3 separate regions of the Homo sapiens genome follow, and all the other regions are linked to region 2. The links come from fine-mapping of genetic effects on plasma protein levels. A gene starts in region 2. Each other region holds a variant in brackets. All regions are shown on one strand. Distances are from middle to middle.

Region 1 (10,192 bases), 100 kb after region 2:
CTGTAGTCTCAGCTACTTAGGAGGCTGAGGTGGGTGGATCACTTGAGCCCGTGAGGTTGAGGCTGCAGTGAGCTTTGATTGTGTCACTGCACTCCAGCCTGGGTGACAGAGTGAGGCCCTGTCTCAAAAGATACATGAAATAAAATAAAGCCTGATGAGTTTGTATAAACTTATGCACCCATGTAACCACAGATCAAGATAAAGAATCTTTCCAAAGTCCCAGTAAGCTCTCTCTGGTTCTTTCCCATCAGTGCTGTCACCAAAGAGAACCACCATTTTCATATTATCTGTTTTCGAACTCATATAAATGGAATCGTAGAGCATGCGTTCATTTTGTCTAACTTCTTTTGTTCAAAATTATGTCTGGGAGATTCATCCATGTTCTAGCATGTAGGAGCCGCCCACCCTTTTTCATTGCTGTGTAGTATTCTGTTGTGTGACTATACCAGAATTTATTTAGCTTTTCTGCTTTTGATGGACATTTGGGTTGTTTCCATATTTTGATGTTATGAACATAGCTGCTATGAACACTCTTGCACAGCCTTTTTGGGGAAAAACGAACACATTTCTGTCGGGTATATACCCAGAGTGGTATTGCAGGGTTACTGGGTGGCTGCATGTTTAGCTTTGGTGGGTAGGGCAGCTCTATTTTTGAACAGATGTTTCATAGAGTAGGAATCCTCATGTAAGATTTTGCCTGGAGAAAGGGTGTGATTGCTTACATTTTTCTTTACATGGAAAAAGTTTCAATTCCTGTAGTGCAATCTTCTGCATTTACAGATGGTGAAACTGACACTCAGAAAGTGATTTGCTCAGACTCAAACTGCGGTAAAGCCACAGCCAGATCACTAGACTGAACATTTTGTATTGACTTTCAAACTCTGTGAAACAGATCCTAAATATCACTCAAACTGGTTGCTGGTCAGATGTGGACAGGAACCCATAATTAGAGTCAGAAGCCTTGGGTTCAGTCTCAAAACTCTCACTAACAAATGTGTGAGTCAGGGTGAGGCACTGCTGTGGACCTCCATCTCCCTAACAGGGAAATGGATGTATTTGCTTCACAGCGTTGCTGGATGGAAGGAGGTAATGATGGGGAGACATTTTATAGCTGGGAAGCTCTTAGCAAATTGTTATTATCATTATCAAAATGTATTCTAAGGGGATGCTTGGGCAAGCATGCTGTTTTCTTGTGGTATGAATGTTTATTCACTATTTTCTGTTTTATATTTTAGCCTGAGTTAATAGTTTTTAATGAACATTTCTTCCCCCTCATTAAAGAGCTAGTATGGCAGTTAGTATTTTCCGGAGATAGCCACACCAAGTATAGCCCATCCTCCATGCTGCTCTTACACTGGGGACATTTTTATAATGAGACACACCTGCATTGAAGCGGGGGTCTGTGTTTCCTCCCCTTGAACCTGGGCAGGCTTTTGTAACTGCCTTGACTCACTGAAAGTGCAGAAATGGCAGTGCGCAAGGAGGAATGCAGAGTTAGAAAGGAAAAGTCTAGATTTCGGGGTGTTTCCTGCAGAGAACAGAAACCCTCCCTGGGAGGAGACACTGCTGTGGCTTTTACTTTTCTGGTTTTACACTGTGGTCCTATTCACTTTTCAGATTTCTTCATTAAAACCTTCCCCCAAAGAGGAAAGCCTATGTCTAGGAACCACCCTGACAAGTTAAAGCTGAGGTGAGAACTGAGTGCTCCATAGCTTCCAATTCAGGCAGAGTTTTAGTCATTTTGGGGGAGCCTGTTGACTCTGGGAGAAAGGCCTAGAGCTCAGATTATCCTGGGGTTGTGGGGGCTGGGAACAGGAGCTTTGAGTGACAGTATACAGGGGAATAGTGACAGCTCCCCTTTGCCTGAGGGGCAGATGGACTCCTAGCACCCAGAACCCTAGACGCAGAATGGCGCCCATGGGGGTGAGTGGTCGAGAGGCACACAGAGAGAGCTGGATTTCTGCCCCTTGACTTTCCCCTCCCTGAGAGCTCCAGGTTTCCAAGAAAAAAGGTCCTCACCACAGTTCTAAAAATAATAACTATCTTGGCTGGGCACAGCGGTTCACACCTGTAATGCCAGCACTTTGGGAGGCTGAGGTGGGAGGTTTGCTTGAGCCCAGGAGTTGGAGACCAGCCTGGGAAACATAGTGAGATCCTGTCTCTACAAAAAATACAGAAAACTTAGCCAAGCGTGGTGGCTCCTACCTGTAGTCCCAGCTACTCAGAAGGCTGAGGCAGGATGATTGCTTGAGCCCAGGAGTTGAAGGTTACAGTGAGCTATGACCACACAACTGCACTTCAGCCTGGGCAACAGAGAGAGACCATGTCTCAAACACATACATTCAACACATACATACATGCCTTATATGTGCAAATCACTTTACATACTGGGAGGCAGTTTCATACATGTGACTTTTTTTTATTTTTCCAATGACCCTGTAAATAAACCAGAGAATTGTATCATCGTCATCATCATCTTAATGTTATGTTTAAATAAACTGAGAGGGTGAATAAAGGCTTCACCCAAGGTCACACAGTAGCAGGTGGAAATGCCAGTGGGAAAACCAGGTATTCTGGCTTCGTGAGTTTTCTTTCATTGCATTGCATACTTGATCCGTGGAGGGGTGGGAGTTTGGGGCACACAGCAGATCAATGGCAGAGCTAACTTGGGGGAGAGGCACCTTTCACCCCTCAGATTGCCCCCAGAAGGTAGCTGTCTCTTTGGCTGGCAGCATGGTGTTGATTCTATGTGAGAATAAAATGTCCTGGGCTGGCCACCTCTGCCCCACCTTTGTCCCCCTACCTCCACCACCCCATGACTCCCCAGCCCCTATCAGAAAAGAACCATTCTCAGTCATTTACACCCTCATTACCATTTAAGGGCTTATGCTTTCTCTTTTAGCAATATTTGCTTTTAAATCTTATCGCTTATTATGATTTTTGTCTCCTGGAAAACATGGTTTCTGGCATCAGTAAGCTGATAGAAAAGCATTATCTCAGGGGCAGGGTGGGAGTGAGTGAGAGAGATTTTATAGACACCCTCCTCGTGTGTCAGCAGATCCTAGCTACTTGAATCACAGCAAGTCACTTATCAAATATCTGAGTGCTGGATGCCCGGGACAGAGTGATGAATAGAAAGTGGTCCATGCAGGTGCTGGGATACAGCATGAAGAGAGTGCAGTTCATGGCAGGGGCCACAGACTGGTGGGCGAGACAGGCAAGGAAGCAAGTAATTATGATCTGCTAAGTGCTACTATAGCTGTAAGTGTTCAGGGTGCCTGGGAGCATGAAGTAACTGGGGTCGGAGTGGGGTGGAGGTGATGTTGTTTGGCGGAATCTGGAAAGGTAATAGAACTTCCCTTTATTGAATATCTTAGTCCAGATACTCTAGACAAGCAAATCTGAGGGATCGTGTGCTCAAACCAGGGCAGGAGTGTGACCTTAGGGAAGAAGGCATGAGGGAAAGGGCGTGCGGTGGTGAAGGAGGAGAGTAACGTGAAGGAATGTGTTACGGTTGTGACCACCGTTCTGCAGCAGCCCTGTAGGCTACTCCATCTTGCTGGACAGTCCCAAGAGGTCTTACGGACCTCTGCCGCCTGAGCAGGGCTCTACAGGAGGGCAAACACCTCTTCTGCTTTTTTCCCATTTTGAGTCCCCCAGTAGCTAAGCTTGCTCCATGGGGAGTCACCTTTTGTGCATTTCTAGTTTGAGTCACATGCCCTGCAGCTGGCAAGTCTGGGGGTGATGGGAACTGCCAGAGATGGCTGGTGTCAGCCATAAGGGCAAGCAGAGATCTAGCAGCCAAGATGCCAGCAGAGACTATAAAAGGAGTCTCTTTGAGATGTCGGAGCATTTGCACACAGTGGATTGTCAAATCCTCACAATGGCCCTGTGTTGTTCATTGAATTGTGTACCCCAAAAAGATAGGTTGAAGTCCTAACCCCTGGTACCTGTGAATGTGACCCCATTTAGAAATAGGGTCTTTGCAGATGTAATCAAGATGTGTTTAAGATGAGGTCATGCTGGAGTAGGGCAGGCCCTTAATCTGATATGAATGTTATCCTTTAGGAAGAGAAGAGATACAGAGGCAGGTGCACATAGAGAGGAGAATGCCACATGAGGACACAGATGCACGGGTGAATGCTCTGTGATGATGGAGACAGAGACTGCAGGGGCACATCTACAAGCCAAGGAATACCAAGGACTTCTGGCAACACCAGAAGCTAAGAGAACGGTGTGAAATGGGTTCTCTCTGCGAGCCTCTAGAGAGAGCATGGCCCTGCCAACACCTTGATTTTGGACTTTGGTTTTAGAAGTGTCAGAGAATACATTTCTGTTATTTTAAGCACCCCCGCCCTTTATGGTACTTTGTAACGGCAGCCCCAGGAAATCAAATGAAACAAGGATCTTGCATTTTCACAGCTAATAATTAGAGGAGCTGGGGTCTGAAGCCAGGTTTGCCTGTTGCTTAGATTTGATTTGAAAAATGGTGAAGGCTTTGCAGGGGTGGGATGGGGGAGACCAAAACATGTTCATGTCTGTGGGTAAATTGTAGGTGTATATATTTTTGAGGTACATGAGATATTTTGATACAGGCGTGCAATGCATAACAATCACACCAGGGTAAATGGGGTATCCATCACCTCAAACATTTATCCTTTGTGTTGCAAGTAATCCAATTCTATTCTTTTAGTTATTTAAAAATGAACAATTATTATTATTATTTTACTATAGTCGCTGTTGTGCTAGCAAACACTAGGGCTTATTTATTCTTTCTATTTTTTTGTACCCATTAACTATCCCCACTGACTACCCTTCCCAGCCTCTGGTAACCATCCTTCTACCTCTATCTCCATGAGTTCAATTGTTTTCATTCTTAGCTCCCACAGATAAGTGAGAACATGTGATGTTTGTCTTTCTGTATCTGGCTTGTTTCACTTAACATAATGACCTCTGGTTCCGTCCATGTTGTTGGAAATGACAGGATCTCATTCTCTTTTATGGCTGAATAGCTCTCTATTGTGTGTATGTACCACATTTTCTTTATCCATT[T/C]GTCTGTTAATGGACACTTAGTTTGCTTCTAAGTCTTGGCTATTATGCATAGTGCTGCAATAAGCATAGAAGTGAAGATAACTCTTCAATATACTGATTAAAATAAAAAATTAAAAAACAAGGTGGTGCTCCCTCACACACACAAGAGAGCAGCTCTGTCCAATACAGAGGCCTTGTGGCTACTGAGTGCCTGAACTGTGGCCAGTCTACACTGAAAGGGGCTGTGTGTGAAAAATACGTACTGGGTTTAGAAGACCTAGCACAGAAAAGAATGTAAAGTATCCAATTACTAATTTTTAATATTGATGACATATCAGAATGATTATATTTTGGATATAGTGGGCTAAATAAAATATATCATTAAGCTTCCTTGCACCTGTTAAAAAAAGCAACCACAAGAAAATTATAGTCACATATGTGCTTGTGGGATTTCTGTTGAACAGCACTGCTCTGGAATGTGAGTTCTTTGAAGGCAGAGACCATCTCTGTACTGCTGACTGTGGTCCAAGAGCCAGAGCAGGGCCTGACATACAAGAGTTTCTCAACACATAATTGTGGATAATTAAATGAATGAATAAACGAATGACCAAATCCAATCCAACTCTGAATCTGCTCGTCTGGTCCCTGTGAACATAGGATTGGATGTAATTTTCACCTTGCCTTGTCTCTCTGGGCAGTTCTTCAATGGCTGAGGCTTACAGAGAGAATGCATGCCGCACAGTGCTAGCTAATGGAGAGGCTGGATGTGTGGTGGAATTTGGAGAATAAAAATGGCCAGAGTATTTCCAACCACAATGGCAGTGACCACTTACTGGATACAAATTCTGTGCCTGGCATCATTCTAGGCACATTATATGGAGTGACTCATTTTAATTCTAACAACCTATGACATCAGTCCCACCATCAACTCTATTTGACAGACAGAGGAAATTAAAGCTCAGACAGATAAAATTATGCCCCCAGGGTTACAGAGCTGTTTTTTTTCCGAGTTCTGTCTGACATGACACTTGCACTCTTCACCACCATCACAGAACACAGAGAAGAGGGGACTGGGGGTCCTGCCAACACAGGGTGACACTGAACCAGGTCTGTTCAATTCTGAGGCCCCAGCTCCTGAAAGCAGGTGGCCCCAGCCCTCCAGGATTTGGAAGACTCATTGTCTGTGTCTGGTACCGTGGAGCATTTGGCCACATATCGTCTGTGCATCTAGACAAGTCCTGGCATGCATCCAGCCATATCTTGCCCATGCATCTTCTTCACCAGATGGCGGGACCACCCTCTGTACCTATGATGTGGCAATGACTGCACAGGTGAGTGAGCATTCCCTGTGTTGGAGGAGGGGCCCTGTGGGCGGTGGTTGAATCATGGGGGTGTTCCTTCATGAATGGTTTAGCACCATCTCCCTTGGTACTGTCATCGCGATAGTGAGTGAGTTCTTGTGAGATCTGGTTGTTCGAAAGTGTGTAGCACCTCCTCCTTCTCTCTTGCTCCCACTCCCACCATGTGAGATGTCTCACTCCCCCTTTGCCTTCCACCATGATTAGAAGCTTCCTGAGACCTCCCCAGAAGGAGAAGGAACTATGCTTCCTGTACAGCCTGCAGAACCATGAGCCAATTAAATCTCTTTTCTTTATAAATTACCCAGTCTTAGGTATTTCTTTACAGCCTCGGGAGAATGGACTAATACAATGGGCAATCCAGACTGAGCAAACCAAAGGGGAAAAAGCACAAAGATATAAACCTATGGTTTACATTTGGGGAAGTAAGTAGTCCAGAGTGGCAGTGGTATGTGTGTTTGAGGTGGGTGGACAGAGGGAACATCTTATGGAGAGAAAGCATCAGGGAAGGGGGCTGGAGGCAGATTGTATGAAAATCTGAAGGCCAGGTAAGGGGCTTGGACTCTCTCTGGGGTCCCTGAGGAGCAGGGATAGGATGGGCATTGCTGAATGCTGCCAAGTCTGTTTTGGCTGTTTAGTGGAGAACCGATTAGAGGCAGGAGGCCAGATGCTGTTTGAAGCCAGTTCATTCTGTGTGCTCATGGTAAGTGGGCATTAAGAGTAGATGGCACAGGAACTGTGTCCATCTGCATGTCTTCCCTTACAGCTCTATGGAAAGACTTGTCCCATGTAGGTCCCAGCAGCCTCATTTTCAGGAGTTAGTTTGCTAACAGGTGCAAAGCTTTCTGGGAATCAAGCAAAATTACAATGAGTCTTCATATAATGGAGCACGTAATGGAATTATCTTCCACCTGATCTTGGGACTTCCTTTCCACCCAAGCTCTTTGTACAGCAGGTCATCTGTGGGCCCTAGGAAGCAGGCAGAAATAACAGCAAGCAGGCACCTGCTAAGTGTCAGCCACTGTTCAAGGCTCTTGACATGTGTTAACAACTTTAGTTCCCACAATGTATCATGGAGACAGGAGCAATTGTTATCCCCATTTTACAGATTAGACAATCAGATAGGTCAAGTGACTCGTTGAAGGTCACACAGCCAGTGAGTGGAAGAGCTGGATTCAAACTCCAGAGACCACAGTCTTAACTGCTATCTTATATTGCCTCTCCCTTTTTAGATACGATACTTATTATTTCTACAATGATCACAGCTCCTTATGAAATCGGTAATACCATTACTTTTCAGTTTATAGATGAACAAACCAAGGTTCAAAGAGGATTCATAGTTGTCACAGGTCACACAGCCAGAAAGTGGCTGAGCTAGAACTTGAACCCAGGTCTGTCTGACTTTGTAGCCTCATCCCTGTTTTCCAGGAAGGGGTGAGGAAAGAGGAGAGAAGGTGAATGCAGGGGCCTGCCTTGTGATTCCTCACCAGAGGGCAGGCATCCTCCAGCCTATGATGTTTGGGTCTCATGTCTCCATAAGAATGAGATTTTTTGTTTTCATAATTTGAAAAGTCCACAGTAGGGCACAAACATCGTGACTCTACCCTTGGCCACATCCACCTCTTCTCTTGGCCAGGCCTTTGGCTCTTTCAAGTTGTGACAGCAAAGCCCTGTCTCAGAGCTGGAGCTTGTAAATTTCAGGGCTCCCATCTGGGTCTGGAGGATAGTGGTTTCAGGGAGTGGTTTCTTTATGTGCAAAGAAAACTGCTATTCAAATCCCATCTCACTTCACATTTCAAAACTCTGCTCATAGGCCAGTGTGTGTGCACATCCGTGATTGTCAACAGGCATCCAGGGATGGGGCGGGAAGTGATGCTCCATGGCCACCATAGGTCAGATAGGAACTGGGAGGCTGACATATAATGAATTAGGCGTTGCTTCATTTTCTGATCAGCATCACCTTCAGCTGATGCTCATCTAGCAAGGCTGCCTTTGAGGAAATCTGAGCAGTGTGTAGTAATAACATATTTGAGCACTCATTACAAGCCAGGAACTACATTAAGCATGATATACACACCACCTCACTTAGTGCTCAAACAATGCTATCACAGATTTCATTACCCCTGGTTGAGAGATGGGGAAACCAAGTGGCAAAGTGGGTTGCCCCATGGCTGAGGCAAGATTCGGACCCAGGTCAGACTCTTTAAGTGTACAAATTGAACACCTGTATCTCTGACTACTGTGTGAAAAATAGAATGTAGGAGAGCAAAGACGGATGCAGAGAGACCAGTTAGGAGGCAACTGAAGTAGTCCAGGTAAGACAAAACAGTTGCTTGGACTAAGATGGTACTATGGAAGTAGTAAGAAGTGGGTGAATTCAGAATATAGTTGAAAGAAAGGCAAAACAACAGGGCTTGTCAATGGAGTGGAGGTGAGCCATATGGGAAAGAGATGAATCAAGGATAAGACCTAGACTTTTGGCCTCAGCAACAAAGTACAAGGAGGTGCCGTTTAGTGAGATGGAGTTGTTAAGGGCAGGAGAGAGTTTGGCGGTGGGTGTCCAGAGTTAACTTGGTGGGTCAATTAGACAACCATGTGGAGACATGACCAGGGGAGAGGTGGGGGAAGGAGGTGTGGATTTGTCACCAGTTTATGGATCCAATTTAAAGTCTTGGGGTGGGTGGATGAGATCATCAAATGGAGGATTATAAATAGAAAAATAGCCAAGGGCAGAACTTTGTAGAGCCTAACAATTAAAGGTCAAGTTGAGGAGGGGTAGTGGGCAGAGGAGACTGAGAAGGAATAGCAGCAGGTAGGAGGACAACCAGGTACTGATCAAAGAGGAACCATGTTTTAAGAAGGAGGGGTGATCATCTGCTCACTGGCACAGAAGGTCAAGTAAGACAAGGAGACAGTTGGCCAGTGGCTTTGGCAAAGTATAGCCCATTGTTGACTTTGACATTTCAGGAGGAATGAATGGTTTAGACCTGTCATGTTGGCTGTCCTTGAATTTCTGGGCAAGAATTCCCAAGATTATGGCGCCTAGAGATGGCAGAGCTGACATTCAGACAGTCCCAGGTTTGAACCTCAGATCTGCCAGTAGCTGTGTGACCTTGGGCAGTTACTATCCCTTCTTGAACTTCATTTTCCTCATCTATGCAATGGGAGTGATAATGCTTACAACTTGAGGCAAGGATTGAATGAAATAATAAGTAAAAACATAAAGCAGCAAATACTTAGGAGGTATTAGATATTTTTATTCTTTTTATTTTAAAAATAAAGACAGGATCTCACTCTATCACCCAGGCCGGAGTGCAGTGATATGATCATAGTTCACTGCAGCCTCGACCTCCTGGGCTCAAGTGATCCTCCTGCCTCAGCCACCTGAGTAGCTGGAACTACAGGCATGCACCACCATGCCTGGAGAATTTTTTATTTTTAGTAGAGATGGGGGTCTCACTATGTTGCCCAGGCTGGTCTTGATCTCCTGACCTCAAGTGATCCTCCCGCCTTGGCCTACCAAAGTGCTGAGATTACAGGCATGAGTTACTGTGCCTGGCTTATTATTTTAATTTTTATATATTTTTAAAACCATTGTTAGCACAAGAGTGATACCTATATTTCTGAGAAAAACCAATGACCTAATTTTGAGCAGAGCTTTATTAATGCCAGGGAATCTGACGGAAAATTCTTTGAGGGTTGAGACATTCTTTTCCCTGTGCCACCCCAAATGTCCAGCACCTAAGTAGATTTAATCCAATCAGGTCAATCCCTATTCTGAGCAGTTTTATATTGCTCCCTAG
Region 2 (9,945 bases):
TGACCAACTGCTGGTGACACATCTATAAGAAGGGAGAGAAGCAGGGGGAAGAGAAGGAGGAAAAGAGAAGGAAGAGGAAGAAAAAAGAGAAGAAAGAATGTCAATAATTCTTGTTACCTTTGTGAACCATATACACATTCTAGCTACTTTTTTTTTAAATAAAATCTTGATTCTCCCCTTTCTTCTCCATACTGTCAAGCAAATACTAAGTAAATTACAGGAGTTCTATGGCAGTCTGTGGGGAAGAACATCTCTAAATAGAGAACCATAGGGTATTTGGGGCTCTGGAGCTGAAAGAGACCTAAGGCAAGCCATCTGATACAATCCTCTTATTTTTAAGATGAGAAACTTAAAGCTTAGAGAAGGAATGTGACTTTCTGGATCAACATCTAGCAGTTGTTTATTTAGTGCTTACTACATAAAGAGCACTGGGCTAGAAGCAGTTGAGAGAGAAAAAAAGGGCTTACCTGGATCCCGCTTCCTAGGAGCAAATACTTTTACTCAATAAATATTTATTAAGTCAGTGTGTTAAATGCCTCCCCGCCAGCTGGGGAGATGAGCCATACATTTGTATCACTGCAGCACAAAGCAGTGTGTGCTGGAGCACCCAGAACTGAAGGACTTGGGTTAGGGACAGGAACGGTAATACAGAGGCGAACTTTCAGGTTCTGGCAACGACCTGGTCACCAGCCCTTGCTGTAGGGGTTTAGCTTCTCTTGTTTTCCAAGTTCAAAGACTACTCTCTCCCATATAGAGAACCTAGTGGTTCTAAAATTTGAGTGACTGTCAGGATAACCTGGAAGCACTGCTACAACAGACGGCTGAGTCCCACCCCCAGAGTGTCTGATTCAGCAGGCATGAGGGCCTGAGAATATGCATTTCTAGAAAGTTTCCAGGGGAAGCAGATGCTGCTGGCGCTAAGACCACACCTTGAGAACCACTGGTTTAACCCATGTTCAGGGTCCAGAACCCCTGAAAATCAAAGTGTTCATTGGGAAAAGACCACAACATATTGATATATCCACCATGAAATAGTAAAATGCATAATTTTATGTTAAATAAGCCACCATCTGATATAGAAACCAGTCTAGGTTAGTATCCAGGGTTTATGAAAATCTTCCGATTGCAAAAATTACATGCCACTTACGAATGAGGTAGGGATGATTATTGAAACATTCTGAAACAACTCCATTCACCTTGCAGAGCACCCATGGTCTGGAGGAAAGTGGTTCTGAAACCACTGTTTTAAACTATATGAAGGGCAATGCTCAACTGTTTCAGTCAAATACCTTAAAAATGAGCATTCCTGGGTTGGGTGACGGAATATTGACAAATTACAGCTTTGTCAGAACTGCTACTAACTCTAGGCGGACCTTGCTATGTACTTTATTCCCTTATAAAGTTTGTGAGTGGCAGAGACAGGCCTAGAAGTCAAGCCTTCTTGGACACTGCTCAGTGCTGTCACCACAGCATGGAGTTTTAGGGGCATGGCTATCACTTCAGTCTAGGTTATGACTGTAGCAAAGTACTAGCTGGCACAGGGCACCGGTTAGTACATTCACAGGCTTGAAGTTAAACAGACACAGGCTTGAATTTTGGTCCCACCGCTCATTTGCTGTTGAGCAGTGGGAGCAACTTGTTGGCCAAGTTACTCGCTGAGCCTCAGTCTCTTTGTCTATAAAATGGACCTAATACTTATCTCAAAGGCTTGTTGGGAAAGGCAATGAGATAACATATTATAGAAGGCAACCAATAACATATTAACTTGAACCTAGAGGAAGAGGTAAGGGAACAATTCGGTATCTGTGTTTTATATATCATGGATAGTCAAGAAAGTCATTCTAGGCAGTAGGGAAATGTGCACAGAGGTACTGCAATTACATGCGCCTGTAAAACCCAGAGGCTGGCACACTGGAAGGGAAATAGTGGAGATTCCTGGCATCTCCTGGCCACTTACGCTGAGGTATTCCCACTAGCTGTGTGCCCAGCACTTCCTCTGCATGCCTCAGATGCATTTGACAATCTCAGGTGAACTGCACTTCAGGGTCAAGGGAACCCCGGCCATGGTTCTAAGAAGCAACTCCCATTTTAGTATCACCTACATTTGAAACCACAGAGCACTGTCCAGGAGAGGTGATGGTGGTGGGTCTCCTCCTTTGGCTCTCTGGCCCATCAGCTGATACTAGGGAGCGCTATCCCTCAGCCCACATTTCTCAGCATGGTAAGTCTGAGAGTCTTGATGATTAAAACACATTTTTGTGTGTGCAATTTCATAGGTTTTCTAAACTCTTGAAACCCTTGCATGAAGGACAAAGGGACCCCACGTTACACACTCCTACTTCCTGGAGTATGCTAAGGGCTTCCCAACACTGGTGCCAACATCAGCATGCCAATGACGCTTGGGTGGGCATCTCTTTTTTAAGTTTTGTTTGTTACCTTTAATTAGAAAAGGGAGTTATTATTAAAGAATAAAAAGATATAGTCACAGATGGCATGGGTGGCACATGCAAAGATCCCTAGTTTGAGGGCCAGGCAGACTTCTAGAACTGTGTGACTCTGGGTGAGTCACTTGGCCCCTTTAAGCCCCACACTCCTGATCTATAAAATGGGCATGCTACTGTGGTAAGGAGTTAGTGACATAATTCACGTGAAGTGTCATGGTGCCTAGATGAAGTCAGGACCCACTATTTGCTCCCCTCCTTCCACAGCATTTACTACAATGGCAACAATACAGTCTCTTCTTTACTGTTTGTCTTCTCTGCCACACTGAGTGAACTCTCTTATGCCATGGATCATGTCTATCTTGTTTTGCACTTTACCCCCAGAGTCCAGCACAGAGGGATTCCATGACTTATTAGTAGCATGAAGGAATGTACGGAAATCATACAATTTCAGATTCCAGTAAACTAAACTCTAAGAGGTTACCCACATTCCATCTAGTATCTTGCAATTCCTTGTTTGAAAAAGTGGGTCATCACCTGGGGTTTAGTAATCCCTTTGTTAAAATGACATTGTTGTTGCACACAATTTTACCTGGGCAAGTAAAAAAACCTTTTTTTCCCCCTTCTCACAGATTTAAAAACTCTTTAGGAAGCAATAATAGCTTTTCATTTTTTAACTGGGGCCAAAGTTAGTTAATCCACAAGAATGGGGATCCCAGCTGTCATTTTGGTTGATATCACAACTGACGACCAAGACCATCACAAATATGGGAGCAAGTCTGATTTGTAACATTATTATAATTATGAATCCAATTACTTTAAGGAATGCACGAAAGGCTTTTTAAAAATTTCAATAGTAAGGCAGGCACCACTCACTTTAGCTCTATACAATCCTTTAACTGATGGGCATTAACATTTAGGAATATACTTTTATACATCAATACACACCACTTCAAAATAAGATAAAACAAACATTTCCACAAACTATGCATACACACAGATCTTGCTATACAGTTATTATTAGGTGGCTTTTAAAATGGACACTGTACATCGGTCCCTAGAGTACTAAGTTTTCACTAATGTTCCAGCAGATGACTCACCAGGGATGCTTCCAGGAATCCACCAACTCCCTCCTGCCAGCTGCTGGGGTAGCACACTAACGGTTTCTACACCTGGACAGCTGCAGGCCCACAGGGAGGGGAGGGAGGTAGGGGCTTGGGAAGTGCTTACCTTGCTCTGGGCAGGACGGAGAGTCCAATGGCCCTGAAACAGATGTTGTTTCTTCTGCTGCTGTTGCTGGTACTGGAACTTATATACTCTACTCCTTTCTGATGGAAACTTAAACTAGAAACTGACTTGTTGCAACATTGAAAACAACTCTCAAAACCTTCTGGGGGAATTTCAAGAAGTTCCTTTTTTGTTTGTCTCTCTCTGTGTGTGTATCAATAACGAGGAGGGAACATAGACATCAAAATCCCAGGTAATGAACTAAGAGGAAATGACTTTTGGGTGGGGAATAAGGAAGGAGATGGAGATGCTAATTTCTCTGGGTTTACATCATGGCCAAGGTGCTTGGAGACAGCACTAGGCAGATTCCCTGGGTTCCACAGATCGAGGAAGAAGGAAGGCCAAGGGGCGGTCAGACGGGAGGCTGAGTTCATGTCGGGATGGAACAACTGTATGCCCAAGGGCTTAAAAACAAAATCCTGGTTCTTCCCAAGTCAGAGAGGATGAGATGAAGGGCAAAGGGTTTAGTACATCTGGGGCGCCTTCCTCCACATTAGTCCTTTAATTTCAGAAACATACTATTTACCACCCATCTTGGCTCCATGCACCTCTCCCCACATTCCCCGAGTGGGAACACACGCGTGCACACACACACCCATGCACATTTCATACAGACACAGACCTGGGGAGATGATAAAACTGCGTGTACCACTAATAAGACTCAAATATGTGCACATCCTGTGCTCATAGGTACTCGCTCATAGGGGCGGATGGGAGCAGAAAGTGAAATACCCTCAGGGAGGCATACAGACAACCACACTCAAGGCACCCCCCCTTGGGCACCCAGACTACATCCTCATTTCATTTGCACACAAATCTATGGCCCTAGGGGCTCCGTGCAGATGCACAGGAATAGCGGAATAAAGATATCTCTCGTGGTGGAATTTCAAGTTGCTAAGAGGTATGCAAAGGTGTACACCGGTGTGGACCCCCCCATCCCCCGCCCAGTCTGCACGTGAACAGGAACATGTACCTGCACGTATACCAGGTACACGCAGACAGATGCGGGCCATCCCCAGAGCCGCCGACAGAGGTCGCTGCGAGACGGTACCCGCGCCCCACAGTCCACCCGCTCCTCGGAGTCCCCCCGCGCCCCGGAGTCCACCCGCGCCCCGGAGTCCACCCGCGCAGGTCCACTTCTCCATCCCTGCTCTCGACCTCCGCCCCTGCGGTGGGGGAAGTTCCTGGGGCGGTGGCTGGGACCAGGCCGGGTTTTAGGCGGGCGCAGATTTCCGGGCTAACTTTCCTCGCCGTCTCAGCGCGGGAAGGGGGAAATGGGAAACCCGGGCCAGAGCAGCGGAGCTTCCCAGCCGCACACTTCCTCCCTCCAGCCGTTTGTCTCGGCAGGGGAGGGCCCAGGCAGCCAAGCCGGCAGGCCCACTGGTTATCCGACCTTGTGCTCTGGCCGTGGGTGGAGACCTTACATCCAGCTCAGAGCGCCTCCTCCCATCCCCTGTGTCCTCTAGGCCTCCCCAGACTTTGCCTTTTAGCCTTCCAGTGAAACAAGTTCTGTATCCAAGATATACAATTAAGTGGACAAAGCAGATTGCAGGTATGTTTTTTCGTATGATACCATTTGTGGGGTGTGTGTGCGTATGTGTGTAAGTGCACCTGCACTTTTCACAACTGGTATCTCTGAGGCATATGTAACAACTGGGGGAGGGGCTTTTTGTAAACATGTATTAATTTCCTCCGATCCATCACTAAAGTGTACTGAACAGAAATTGACGTGAAGTAGTTTCACTAATTTATTTACAGTGGCTGCACCACCACAGATGAGTCCTTGTGCCCCCCCATAAATAAATACATGCATAAAATAAGACAAGTAAGGTTCAAAATGACACAAATATTTTATTCATGTGTTCGTAAAAGCACCTTGAAAATTAAAAAAAAAAAACTGTAACGTAAAGTCTCAGTAAAAATCCAGCGCCAGTTATGCAAAAGAAGCTTCGAAGTATGCCCTCATCCTCCCTTTTCCGCTCAGATTGCAGCCCGAGGGCTAGTCCTATATGAAAGGGCCCCCAGTGTTCACCTCCACCAGGGACAAGTAATAGGGTTTTAAGAGCATGGGCTCTGGAGTTAGAGAGCTGGATACCCGCACCTGCAAGTTACTTACCTTCGTTAAGCCTCAGTTCCTCACATCTGTAAAATCGGGTTAATAATAGTACCTGATCTCAGGACTGGTGTGAAGATTAATGAGATATGATGGGATGCAGTTAAAGCAGCATCCTGGCTAAACGTTTAATGAATGGCTGCTTGCACTTATTTATTTTTTTATCCTGTCGTGTCCCAGAAAGTCTTTTCGTAGCTCACAAGGGGACATCAAAGATGACAAAGAGGAGTGGAAGAAGACAGAGAGAATCAATGTGAGGAGCCTGGAACAGGGCTCTGAATTGTCTTCCCACAGTGAAATCACTTGTCTATTGCTGAGCCAAGAATTTGACTCTGAGCATCTAGGATGAGAAAGAAGAACTGGCACCTACGCCATCTCTGCCCCTCGGGACTGACTATTTTGGTAAGTTCAGTTCACCCATGGAGGAAGTGGTTCTCGTACTTTATCTGCATGTAACAACAAAATTCAGGTTCTTGGGGCTGATGCTTGGAGATTGTGATTCAGATCTGGGATGGGGCTCAGGAACCTGCATTTTAACAATGGAGGTTCTAATGTGGTCATTGGCAGGTTGTTCTAATGTGGGGGCCACATTAGAGCCTCTCTCGGAGACAGGCTGTACATGGCCAGCCAGCATTCTGGTAATATGAGCCAAATGCCCATTGACCTAATTTTGGAGAAGAGGTTTATCAACATGTCCCACTTCACAATCCAGACCCTGATCCCAGGCAAAATAAACTGATACCTATAAGCTTTCTATTGCTTACCCTATGGGCGAGGAAGGTCTGCTGACAAACAGAGGGCGTGCTGAGCTGCAAGGTTAATGTGTCTGATGATTAAGCTGTGACATGGAGGCAACCCCCTAAAAACCAAAAATAACTTAAAGAATTTTTTTGGCCACAAAAACTTATTTTCTCCTAGAAGAATGCTTTGATCATCTAGTACACATTTCAAATAAAGGAGAAGCCATGTGTACTTATAAAAATTAAAATCTTAGAAAATTACATAAGCAATACATGCATGCATGCTATTGTAAAAACTTCAAACAATACAAATATACATAGAATACAATGTTGAGGCCCTGATTCCTGTGGCTTCCAGAGGTTACCAGTGCCAGCATTCCTGCAGAGCTTCTGAATGCTTCTCTATGTATTTATATCTATCTGGCTATATAAATGGAATCATACTATACATATTGTTCTGCAAGTTGCTCTTTTCTTGCAACAGTCTATTTTGTATTCAGTCACTTGCAGTGACTTGCTAGAGGTCACTTGAACAGATTTCACGTCTGCATCAATTAGGTTGCCCTGGGCTTAGTTTTCTAAGGAGCTCTGCAGTTCCAGGCATCAATCCACTAAGGACTGATAACACCTGGGATAAGAAAAGACTATCTTGTCCTGTTGATGTCTCTTAGGAGCAAATAATTTGCCCTACAAGCTCCATAGCCTTTTCATGAAGTCTCACTTATCACCTGTATACCACTCCCTGACAAGGAGAATGGGCTTATTACAAGGAAAGTGATAGACAAGGCAGGTTTGCCCTACTAGATGGAAAGTGGTAGGCCATTGAGAGTCATGAAACCACCCTCACAGGGTTGACAAGAATTGCATGCTGGGTTCTGGACAGGAATATAGTTATAATTAAGCATTGATTAGGTTGCACGTTGGCCCACTTCCTTGTTGCTCAAAGTCACGTAGCACTAGATCCTGACCATTTGCATCTGCATTATTCCTGTAGATAGGATTTCTGACATTAGGGTCATAAGATTGTGTAGGAATTGATTTGTATCCCTATTGTTCCTTTAGATGGGATCTCTGACATTACAATCAGAACGCTTTTGTTTAAGAATCACTTAAGTTGTTTTTCAGGTCCCCAATTCTACCATATTTCAGTTTGAAAACCCCCACAAAGAAAGGGGATCAGGTTGAAAATACAGCTTCACCCTGTCCCATGACTTCACCATGCACTCTTCAACCAGTCAACCATCTCCAACACATCAGCCCACTCCCAAACTCTTAAAAACCCTAGCCCCAAATGCCACAAGGAGATAGATTTAAGGTTTCTTCCTGTCTCCTCATTTGGTGACCCTACGATTAAACCTCTTTCTCTGCTGCAACCTGGCCTCTCGGCGTATTGACTTGCTGTGTGCAATGGGCAATGAACCTATTATGGATACAGTCACATGTGTCTGTTACATGAGTCCAAGTGATTTGTGCGGCCAGTGAAGTGCAGAAATAGGGCAATTGTGTGGATAATGAAAACTAAGGCTTCTTCCCCCAAATGGTCAGTTGCTTTTGAAGGGATACTTCTAGCCTAGGAGTATGGGAAGTAGCTTCTACCTCCTGCCTCATACATACATGCTCTTACCAAAAGAAGAGTGGAAGTGTCACGGCAGATAGCTAGTCAGACATGAGCAGGGCAGAAGAGGGTTCCCCCGCCACTCCCCGCCCACCACCACTAGGAATGTCAGGCAACCATCAGGTGAGGGTCAGATGGTTATTAAACTGTTTCTCTAAAATAATAATTGGTCACAGCTGGTACCAGGGAAAGGCAGTCTCCCAATAGATAGAACACCTGAAGCTGGTGATTAGCAGCTTCCGGATAAGATCTTAGGAGCTGGGCGAATGGGCTTAAGCATGAGCACTAGGAGGGAAAATGGTCGAATTTAACTGGTGTATGAGCTTCTTCTAAGAACACTCAACTAGTAAGGGAAGAATGCCTCAAGTGAACATGCGTACAATTTCAGTAAACATACTGTGTATGTGGCCCCTCCCAAGTGCTGGCAGGCCACCCCAAGAGAAGAATCAGGGGAGAAGGGAGGCAACCCCCCAGAAGCATGCCAGCATATGCAACCCCAAATCAAAGGTTAAACCATACACTTGAATCTCTCAAGTCACCCTCCCTCTTCCAAGTGTACTTCCTTTTGTTCCTGCTCTAAAACTTTCTCTTTTTTTTTAACTTTTTTTTTGAGATGGAATCGTGCTCTGTCTCCCAGGCTGGAGTGCAGTGGCGCAATCTCGGCTCACTGCAACCTCCACCTCCTGGGTTCAAGCCATTCTCGTGCCTCAGCCTCCTGAGTAGCTGAGATTACAGCTACCACGCCCGGCTAATTTTTGTATTTTTAGTAGAGATGGGGTCTCACCAGGTTGGCCAGGATGTTCTCGAACTCCTGACCTCAAGTGATTCACCCGCCTCGGCCTCCCAAAGTGCTGGGATTACAGGCATGAGCCACTGTGTCTGGCCTCCTGCTCTAAAACTTTTTAAATAAACTTTCCCTCCTGCTCTAAAACTTGCCTGGGTCTCTCACTCTGTCTTAAGCCCTTTGGTCAAATTCTTTCTTCTGAGTAATAGGGACAGGAGACAGAGAAATTCTAGGCAGAAAAGAGTGGGGGTTTTTGGCAAAGACCCACCCTCAAGCCTGGTGCTGTGGCCCAAAGTGAGAACATGTAGTCCTGTTTTCCCACTCCAATGTTGCCGTTTCCCAAACCACCCATGGCCCACCCTGCCCCCACATTCTGCACCCATAAAAACCCCAGGCTCCACTGGCAGAGAGCAGAGAAGGGGAGGAGAGAAGAAGCAGCTGAATGCTGGAGAGAAGCAGTTTGACTTCAGAGGGATGACTTGACAGCAGGACTTCAGGGGAAGAATACCTTCCCGGTCCCTCCCCTTTCCACCTCCCCTTCCTGTGGAGAGCCACTTCCACTGGCAATAAAATCCTCCACATTCACCGCCCTTCAATTCGTTCATGCAACCTGATTTTTCCTGGACACCAAACGAGATCTCAGGTGCCATGGGTGAGGATGCTAAAGGCTGTCACACTGACCCTCTGCCCTTGCAAAAAGGCAGAGGGTTCACTGAGTTGTTAAACACTTAATCCAACCATGGATAGCAAAGCTAAAAAAGTGCACTGTAACATATGTCCTGTGGGGCTGCAGGGGTCATGGGTACTCCACCCTAGATGCTGCTGTGGGGCCTGCACAGAGTTTTGGTCCTGCCGGTGCCCAAAAGCATTTGCTCTGGCTCTTGCACCTGCTCACCTGTGTGCTGCCCCCCCGCCCATGAGGGGTTGAGAGCTGTGGACTGAGTAAGTGAGGCATTCCTGTCAGG
Region 3 (10,192 bases), 14 kb after region 2:
GCCTCGGCCTCCCAAAGTGCTGGGATTACAGGCGTGAGCCACCGTGCCCGGCCTAAATAGCTATTTTTAATATGATAGAATATGTCCTGAGCACGTACTTTGTGCTAGGTGCTCTGCCCCAGTAGAAGGAACACTGCCCCCACCAGTAATGTGCTCACAGTATTCTAGGGGGCAAAAGAAAAAAAAGCTAAGAGGCAATGACATGGCAGTGTGACACGCCTTGCAATGACAATCACAGCAAGGGTGCTTTAGATGCACACACATCTTCGGGGTGGCGGTGAGGGAAGGTTTTCCAGAATAGATGATGTCTAAGCTGAGATCTACCAAATGGGGGGTTGACCTCAGCAACCACAGTAGTAGACTTTTTGGGTGTGCTTCCTGTGGACCAGTTACTGTGGTGTGTGTTTCATGTGAGTTTTCTCATCTCGTACTCACAACAAAGCTATGAGGTGGAAATTATTCTGCCCACTTTACTGGTGAGGAGACTGAGGCTTAGAGATGTAAAGCTAACTTTCCATGAAAAATGTAGCTAGTAGATGGAGAATCTGGGATTGAAACACATCACGTGTTTGAGTCCATCAGTACCATCTGTCTTGTAAGACCATCCTATATAAAATTTATAAAGTGACAGCAAATCAGGTTAGCAGAAAAGACATTACCCTTAGCTAGGCCATCTATAGGAAGCCAGTGGGAGAAATGGTTTTCTAAGATGTGGGTATGCATGAAATAGGAAGTGTAGATAGCGCTTGGGGAGGAGAGTGATGTGATTCCAGGGGGTTGTGAAAATGAGGCATCCAGACATGAGGATCAGGTAGGGGAGAGGCTGGGCGAAGGAGACCCAGGAAAGAGAGCAACAGTAACTAAGGTGTGGACAGATGAAGGCTGGTACTCATGCTTCTTCCCACTGCAAGAAGAGGAGCCATGTGTCATTTCCTCTCTGTGACTGTGAGCAGCCCTTGGCCCCTGGAACTCCCCAGGTACAACCGGAACAACATCATGGTGCACTGGGCTTACTTTTAAGCCTAGAACATGAAGAGAGCTGGTTAGAAGGGGACAAGCAAAGGACTGGAAGGATTAGGCACACACATTCCACCATGTGCTTGGTGCCATAGAGCAGTTTGAGTCTAGACAAATTGACAGTCACTGCCTAACATTCTCCATTTCTGTTGTCCAGCTGGATAATCAAAGTTCCATAACAGATTCTTTTTGGTTTTAATCATGAGTTGTGTGGGGGACACCAATGGGGCTAAGAATTAATTGTCCATATATCATTTTTTGAATTGAGCCTTTTATTCTAAAACAAGCAAGAAGCATTGGACCTGTCAGTTTCTGAGGCAGAAACTTCCTCTCAGAATGGTGTGTGGGCATTCATGGGATAGTCCTTGAACACTGTCCTTGTCCTAATAAAAGCAGCTTACTTTTATTTAGAGTGCTTGTTTCTTGACAGATTTTACTTAAGAGCTTTATAGTTAGTCCTTTTAACAACCCTTTTCCAAGCAAAGACATGGCTGGTAGAGGCAGAATGAGTAACTTGCCCAATGTCTGCCAGCAAGGAGGTGGCAGAGCTGGGATTCTTGATCGCAAACACCGCCCTTGACTGTCTCTGCCTGTGGCTAGTGATGCAATTGTCCCACGTGTCTATCTGATGGGCTGTTTGCCAGAAAAGCCTTCTGAAATGCTTTGGGCTGCACAGGGCCCCAGTTAAAATGTGTGTATGATTTAAACTGACACTTGTTAACCTTGCGGTTATTTATTGAGTGACAATTACATATCAGGCACCCAGCTAAATTCTGTGAATGTAGTAAGCAGATCAGACCTGGACTCTGTCCTCATAGAGCTAAATAGATATGTGCAGAGGACAAAATGCTATGAAGGAAATGAATGGGTGGTGAGACAGAGAATCACAGGGGAGGGCTCTCTGATGAGGTGGCATTTAAGTTGGGACCTACAGGTGAACCAGGATGAGAATCAGTAAGAAGCCCCTACAATGGGAGAGGGCTTGGCGGGTTGGAGGAATGGAAAGGAGGTTGGTGTGACTTAAGCGCAGAGGAAAGGGAGAGATGCCCAGGGAGTCTGAGGCAGGTGCTGGCCGAGGCACATGGCTGCACAGGCCCCATGTAGTAGGCACATTTAGCACTGAAAATATGTAAAAGTCTCTGAGATGAAACAACCACGATAACCAAAACCAAGACCCAGGTATGCTTTGTCATAGGATCAGGTACCAATGAAGTTCTTGGGAGCTGTGAAACATGGCTGACTTGACCAGACCAGAAGTTTCCAAATCTTCCTTGGTCGCAGAACGCTTAGTGCTTCAGTAATTTTTTCATGGCATCTGTAGGCCAAAAGAAATACCAAATAGATTCATTGATTAACTAGTTAGGGTCAAATCGCTTAAAAGTCTTTATGTGCTAAAAACTTTGTATTGGCCATTTGAAAAAAAATGATACATTGAAACAAAAAAAATATTTTTTTGTATTCTGAAATCATCACAATTACTTACTCATGGGATGTGTGGCCTGCTGGGCACTGTGCAACTCCTTAAACTTTGGAATCAGAGTGGACACTGCCACCTTCATTTCCTGTTCCACACTGATTTCCTTGTGGCACTTGCTTTTTGTCACAGTAACTGCCAAAAACATGGCTTCCCCAAAAGATGCCATCACTGAAAGGAATATGACGTAATCTAATGTTGAAACCATGAACAACCCTGAGTTTGTGCAGTGTTCAACAGATATGGAGGATCCTGTCTTTCCCTTGGAAAATTTAAAATACCTCCCAACAGTCCTGTGAATTTACTATGCTACCCCAGGGTGACCTGGTAGAGAGTTTGGAACCACAGCTAGCCATAGTACTTTCAAACTACTAAAGTTAGATATCTCTTTGCCACCAAATCCCTCCTCAGGGCCATATGTGACCCTGCATTTTGTGCAGGGATTCCAGGAAGCAAAGTTGTCACTCTTTCTGGAAACTGTATCCTATTTGCCCAACCATCAATAGGGGTACCTCTGGAGTGCGAACCCAGCCTGGCTTATTTGAATAGAGGAAAGGAGGAAAGGGGTGAGTAACATGTACAGATGGTCAGCAGTAGTATGAAAGCATGTGAGGTTGAACCAAGAGGAAATGAGTAGGTGATACACAACCATAATTTTGGGGCCCTTGATGAAGAAATGAGTGCTGAAATTCTGAAGGGTTTGTTATTGTGCAGACCTGCAGTTAAGCTGGCTAAGCTTTAGGTGTTGCCTCTGCAGTCAGGAACATCCTGCCAGAAGGCAATTAAAGAGTGGAAGAGCAGAAATGCAGAGAAGGAATTCAACACCTGCTCCACCAGCACGTTCCTTGGTCGCTCTCGTCTGTTTCCCTAGCTGGATCACATTCTTGGTGAATGAGAGAAAGTATGAGGATTAATGAGCAGACCTGTCTTTGGGATACCCTAGAACCATGATGCAATGCAAATATCACAGTATCTCAAAGGACAGTAGCCAGTAGAGCCAGTTGACTTCAAGTCAGTTTAACTTTCTCTTTCTGCATAAAGTCATGTATGCAAATCATCTAGGATGGCTGAGATGCTGATGAAATGAGTTCCCATGGCAACTGGAAGATTATCCTTACATCATCTTTGTGATGAGCAAAGTTCAGTGAAGACCAGAGGGAAGTAAAATTCTTGCTTGTCACTGAACTTGGACTGTTTACTCAACCTCTATTGCTTGGTTTTCTCATCTATAAGATGAGAATAATACTGAGATGGGATTGTTCCCTTGACCTCCTCATGGGACTTGCAACATTGGTGACTTGTTTACTTGGCCACTGCACTCAAACCCCTTGCATGAGGGGGAGCACACAGGAGAGCAGGAGCAGGAGCTGGGGTGATTGCCTTTGGAAGCCATTAGGAACAAACTGTGTACCAGCCTGTGGCAGTGTCTAGGGGTTGTCCATGACCTCTGGAGCCCAAGGGGGCATGTGTTACAAACAATACTCTTTTAGCATTTGCTGTCCACAGACAGCTAAGTGTTTACCCGCTCAGTGGAGGGTTGGGGTGACAGCCTTTCACACCCTGCCCTCTTGATACCCAGGTTCTTGTCCTATGTCCAGGAAGAATCAGGTCACAGGGACTTGAAGGATGGTGAATGTGGAGACTTTATTGAGTGGTGGAGGTGGCTCTCAGTGGGATGGGGAGCTAGAAAGGGGATGGAGTGGGAAGATACTCTTCCTCTGGAGTTCAGCCATTCCTGGCCAAATTCCTCTCCAACCATAGTCTCCGATGTCCAGCTGCCTCTTCTACTCTTGATGTTCAGACACTTCTTCCCTTCTCTCCTTCTCTGCTGCACCGCTCTGCTCCTCTGCCAGTGGAACTTGGAGTTTTTGTGGGTACAGGGTGGGGAGGGAAGTGTGGCATGCCAGGGTGGTTTTAGAAAAGGCAACATTCGAGCGGGAAAACAGGGATGTGAAGTTCTCATCTAGGGCTGCGGGTCCAGGCTTGAGGGTGGAGTCCTTGCCATGGACCCTGCCCTCTTCTACCCAGTATTTCCCTTCCTCCTGTCCTTATCAGTACAAACCCAGACCTTTAAGTTGTTACAAGAAGTAATGATACTCACTAAGCCAAAACCATAGTGTCAGGTACTATGCTGATGCTTTATATACACTAGCTTATTTTATACCTAAAACAATCTTACAAGGAAGACATATTATAATCCCCATTGATATCTGAGAAAAATGAGGCACAGAGAGAACAAGTAAGTTGATATCAAAAATGGCAGGGCAGGGATAATAAGATACATCTAGTATAAGATTTGGTTGAGATTATGAGTATGAGATCTTAGCCCATTGCCTGCCCACAGCAGTACTCAGCAAATGCTAGGCTATTATTATTACTGTTATTTTTTGTTAATTCCATTACTGTTATTATTTGACCAGGGGAATCATCTTAGGCTTTATGGAGGAGTTGACATTTTCAATCAGCTTTGAGGGTGGGTAGGCTTTGGACAGACAGGGATGGGGCAGAAGAACATTCTGGACTATGGGCACAACAAGAGCTAAGGCTAGGAGGTGGGACTGTGTAACTTTGAGATGGAGAATAGGGAGGAGACCTCAAAGCAGAACCTTAGGCTCTAAGGGAAACAAGACAGAAGGATTCTGCTGACAAGACAGTAAAGTAGCCTGCTCATCTGGTGGTAGGCACTGTGTCAGCGTTCTAGGTTGTAAATGTAGGAAGTAAGCAGATCAGAGGTTTGCTCAACAACCTGCCTAGTGAGCCAAACTGCTTGCTCTTGAGGCCATGTAGTCCTTCTGGGGCAGCTCTTCAAACCCTAGTCCACAGAGGCAGGTACCCAGTTCTTTCAGTGATGCCCCAAGCCAGATAAGAAAATGATGTTATGGAGATCTGGAATCCTCACCCAAAAGTCCAGCTTTCATTCTAAATGCATCCGTCCATCAGGACAGTCTTGTGTGTGTTCAGAGGTGAGGGATGAAAGAGAAACTTCACAGCAGAAGACCCTCTCAAAGTCATGTGCGGATCTGCACTGAGTCTCCTGTTTCTCCCTCTTCCCTAGCTATACCTCTTTTTAAGATCCAAAAGGGCAGGGCTGACTTAAGCCTTCTCTAGGGCCAGATATTCCTAGACGAAAACAAGGGGCTTCTTGAGAGGAAATGAAAGGAGACGGAGATGCGGTTTTGCCTTAAGGTTTTTAATGTGAGCCACTGAGAAGATTCATTTTGAAATAGAA[G/A]GATGTGTCTGACAGTGTGATGTAAATGCAGGCATTTTGGAGTCCCTGCTGGAGAACACACAGAGGTGAGTAGGGGTTCTCCAGTGACCTTGTGGGAGTCTTTGGCTGGGAAGCTAGCTGCTGGAGCTGAAAGGGCACAGGAATAGAAACCACACCACCTGGGGTCTTCTGATCCAGTGTTTTCCAAAGGGCAAGTGCCATGTGAGCTGGTTTTAGACTGCAAAGGAGCAACTGATTCAACAGTAACAAATTACAAATGAAAACTTTTCCCATTTCAAAGTTACTTTTCAGTTCTTCTGATGCTAAGGAGAAAGTGTCGGTTTTAGGCTATTGTCTCTCTTTTTTTTTTTTTTTGAGTCAGAGTCTTGCTCTGTCGCCCAGGCTGGAGTGCAGTGGTGCGATCTCGGCTCACTGCAAGCTCCGGCTCCTGAGTTCACACCATTCTCCTGCCTCAGCCTCCCAAGTAGCTGGGACTACAGGTGCCCGCCACCACGCCCAGCTAATTTTTTGTATTTTTAGTAGCGATGGGGTTTCACCGTGTTAGCCAGGATGGTCTCAATCTCCTGACCTTGTGATCCTCCCGCCTCGGCCTCCCAAAGTGCTGGGATTACAGGCATGAGGCACCGCGCCAGGCCTATTGTCTCTTTAATACCTCTCTATCACTTGTTGATCTCTCTTCTTAAGGAGGGCAAGCACTCTTCAGCCTTAGAGGCATTAGCAGGCAACAGCATCTATTCTAGTGGATCTCATCCTTGGCTGCATGATGCTATTTCCTGGGGAGAGCTTTAACAAATTACTTATGCCTAATTGCTTCCTCCCCAGAGGAATTCCAGTTTAATAGCTCTAAGGTCTGGCTTGGGCATTAGGATTTTTAGAAGCTCTCCAGACAACGGTTTCTAATTAGAATTGTTTTGTATTATATTTATTAACCTTCTATTAATGGCACGTGATACTAGTTTTCTACTGAAGGCATTGAAGTAAAATTTCCTTTCAACATCAGTTGACTTACATAAAAACAGTAAGTGCCTGTTAAAGGAAAATAAAAACTAAAGGCAGGAGGATTACTTGAGGCCAGGAGTTTGAGACCAGTCTGGGCAACGTAGTGAGACCCCGTCTCTTAAAAATAAAAGCCAGGCATAGCGGTACGTACCTGTAGTCCCAGCTGCTGAGGAGGCCGAGGTGGGAGGAGTGGGACGATCACTTGAGACAGGGTGTTTGAGGCTGCAGTGAGCTATGATCATACTACTGCACTGGTGTGACAGAGCAGAAAAAAAGAAGAAGAAAAAGAAAGATAACTAAATAATGCAGGTGGTATTTGCATATGGCAAAAACAAAATATGCATTCAGTGAACTTTGCCAAACTCTCTTCTGGTCCTGGCTTAGCTCTCCCATTCCTGTCTTCTTTAGGCCCAGTTTCCTCAACAATGAAATGGGACTAATTATCCCAGGTCACACTTCTCTCTGGGCTTACCCTGGGAATCAGATGATTGAGCTTTGGTAAGTATTATTTGATAAACAAGTATGAGGAAGGAAATAAAAGGGAGATCAGTGCTGCAGAGATGGCTAATTGGCAGATTTACACAGAACTGGATTTTTTGCGTATGTTAAACCAGGCTATTTGGAACTTCTGAGTTCCAAGTACCATCTTCTCTCCCTCTGCATCAGAATGATCCACTGGTCTCCATTAAAGGTATCATGATTGCCAATAATGATTTAGTTCTCCAGTGGCAATAAACTAAAGAACACTGGAAGTCCCACCAAGACTCCCAAGGATAGCGTGTTAGCATACAAGCTGAATAGCCTGTGTTGCAGTCCCTGCTAGTCAGGGTCTTCTGGATAATGCATTGCCTGTGTGAGGACTGGCCTGGTCCTCTGCAGGCTGAATTCTGCATTTAGCAGCTCAGTGTCCCTTCCACGGGCCCCAGTTTCTTCATCAGGAAGGTGAGGGGCTTGGACTAGTGTAGGATCAGGTATAAATGCAAATACCTCCAATACCAAGGAAGTAACTCAGGTGTGAGGCTCTGCTAAGGGAACAGGGAGTGGTCAGGCTTACAGCAAAGTAGAGAGCGCAGTCCCACAATAAAGATACTCAGATTCAAGTTTTGAAAACCAGGGGGTTGTTAAACAACAGTTTGGCAAGGTGACAGTTAGTGATTACTGGATGTGATGGTTTCTAAGATTCATTTCTAAAAATAATTTTATAATAGTAAAATAAATCCAAGGTGTCTACTGGGGTTTTTTTATATCACTGCTGTACTCAATGGTACCCAGAGGCTTCTCTGATAATAAGAACTAACACTTAGAATAAAAGCTAACATCCAAATGCTAAGTTCTTTAAAACCATTTAATCCTCACCATAACTGTGTGAAGCCAGTACTATTATTACAGCCTTATAACATATAAGGAAGTTAGGGTTCAGAGTGTTTTTTTACACACATTTTACAAATGTGTGTAAAATCTCTAGAGCAGCGTTATCCAATAGAAATATAAAATGAGCCATATATGTAATTTTGAATTTTTTTAGTAGCCATATTAAAAAATAAAAAGAAACATGACATTAATTTTAATTATATATTTTATGTAAACCAATATATATAAAATATTATCATCTTAATATGTAATCAGTGTAAAAATTAATGAGATGCCTTGTGTATTTTTTGCATTGTCTTTAAAATTTAGAGTTTCTTCTTTTTTTTAAACAAATAGCCTTATTGAGATATAATTCACATACTATACAGTTTGCCCATTTAAAGTATACAATTCAATGGCTTTTAATATATTTACATATGTGTAACAATTTTAAATTAAAATTGTGTAAAATTTAATATATTCACATGGTTACACACAAATGGTTACACATATGTTAATATACTAAATTTTACACAATTTTATATTTATTATTTATTTGATATATAAATATTATTTATTTGAGGCAGGGTCTTGCTCTGTTGGCCAGGCTGGAGTGCAGCATTGCAATCATAACTCACTGAAGCCTAGACCTCCTGGCTTCAAGCAATCCTCCTGCCTCAGCCTCTTGAGTAGATGGGACTGCAGGCATCTACCACCACACTCGGTATTAACTTTTTAATTTTTTGTAGAGACAGGGTCTCACTCTGTTGCCCAGGCTGGTCTTAAATTCCTGGGCTCAAGTGATCCTCCTGCCTCAGCCTCCCAAAATGTTGGGATTATAGGTGTGAGCCACCGCAATTTTAGAAAGTTTTCATCCCCTTGAGATGAAATCTCCTATCTTTTGGCTAGCACTCACCTACCACCCTGACCCCATCCTCAGCCATAAACTACCCCTAATCTAATTTAAATCTCTATAGACGTCCCTATTCTTTTTCATGTGACTATTCTGTTATCCCAGCACCATTTGTTGGAAAGACCATTTTCCCCCACTGAAGGGTCTTGGTACCCTTGCCAAAATCAGTTGACCATAGACATATGGGTTTATTTCTGTGCTCTCAATGTTCTGTTCCATTGATCTGTATGCCTATCCTTATGCCAGTACCATACTGTCTTGACTATTGTTGTTTTGTAGTTAAGTTTTGAAATAGAGAAGTTTGAGTCCTCATACTTTATTCTTCTTTTTAAGGATTATTATGGCTATTCCAGATCTCTTTTAATTCCATATAAGTTTCTAAATCAACTTGTTAATTTGTACAAAGAAGTCAGTTTGGATTCTGATAGGGAATGTGTTGAATTTACACATCAGTTTGGGGAGTATAACAATGTTAAGGATTGGAAAACCCGTGATTATAGGGTTTTCTCCATTTATTTAGACCTTCTTTATTTTCTCAACAATGTTTTGCAGTTCTCAGCATATAACTTTCATTTCTTTTGTTCAATTTATTCCTAAGTATTTAATACTTTTTGGTGCTATTGCAGATGAATTTTCCTATTAATTTTCATATTGGTCATTGCAATTGTATAAAAATACAATTATTTTTGTATATTGATCTTGTTTCATGCAATCTTGCTGTGATGGTTAATTTTTTGTGTCAACTTCACTGGGACATGAGGTGCCCACATATTTAGTCAAACATTATTCTATGTGCTTCTGGGAGGATGTTTTGGATTAGTTTGACATTTAAATTGATAGAAATTGATAGACTGAGTAAAGTAGATTTCCCTTCGTAATGTAGCTTAGCCTCATTTAATCAGTTAAAAGTCTGAATAGAAAAAAAGGCTGACCCTGCCCACAAATAAAAAGGAATTTCTTCTGCCTGACTACCTCTGAGCTGCAACATCTGTTTTTTCTTGCCTTTGAACTTGAATTGAAACATTAGCTCTTTCTGAGTCTTGAGTCTGCTGGCTTTCAAACTAGAACTACAACATTAGCTTTCCTGAATGCAAATCAAAACCACAATGAGATGCCATCTCACACCAGTTAGAATGGCGATCATTAAAAAGTCAGCAAACAACAGGTGCTAGAGAGGATGTGGAGAAATAGGAACACTTTTACACTGTTG

Direction of the effects. Alleles are on the strand shown, and positions count from the first base shown. The strength of an association depends on the size of the effect and on how common the allele is.
In carriers of allele C in region 1, the plasma level of the protein whose gene starts at base 3,727 in region 2 tends to be higher than with T alone (weak association).
For the plasma level of the protein whose gene starts at base 3,727 in region 2, G is the low allele of the variant in region 3 and A is the other (strong association).

The links. PIP is the chance, under the fine-mapping model, that this variant and not a neighbour inherited with it causes the effect. The UK Biobank Pharma Proteomics Project read protein levels with antibody pairs (Olink). The fine-mapping took linkage between variants from a reference panel, not from the people measured, so its PIPs are less certain.
Region 1: its variant is fine-mapped to the plasma level of the IL12B protein (UK Biobank, PIP above 0.99).
Region 3: its variant is fine-mapped to the plasma level of the IL12B protein (UK Biobank, PIP above 0.99).

Annotation. Positions count from the first base shown.
Region 1 is chr5:159,430,132-159,440,323 of GRCh38, forward strand. No RefSeq gene overlaps it. Among named protein-coding and RNA genes, the nearest start is that of LINC01845, 31 kb to the right of the region's middle. RefSeq lists an enhancer at 5,819-6,319 and a silencer at 10,173-10,192. The variant T/C (reference allele first, on the strand shown) is at 5,053.
Region 2 is chr5:159,326,761-159,336,705 of GRCh38, forward strand. IL12B (interleukin 12B) reads right to left here and starts at 3,727. Exons shown (of 8, transcript NM_002187.3): 1 at 3,672-3,727; 2 at 1-22. The coding sequence starts at 22. It overlaps IL12B-AS1 (IL12B antisense RNA 1), which reads left to right and starts at 4,758. Exons shown (of 5, transcript NR_037889.1): 1 at 4,758-5,280; 2 at 6,022-6,243.
Region 3 is chr5:159,340,389-159,350,580 of GRCh38, forward strand. It overlaps IL12B-AS1 (IL12B antisense RNA 1), which reads left to right. Exons shown (of 5, transcript NR_037889.1): 3 at 7,128-7,217. Among named protein-coding and RNA genes, the nearest start is that of IL12B-AS1, 14 kb to the left of the region's middle. The variant G/A (reference allele first, on the strand shown) is at 5,721.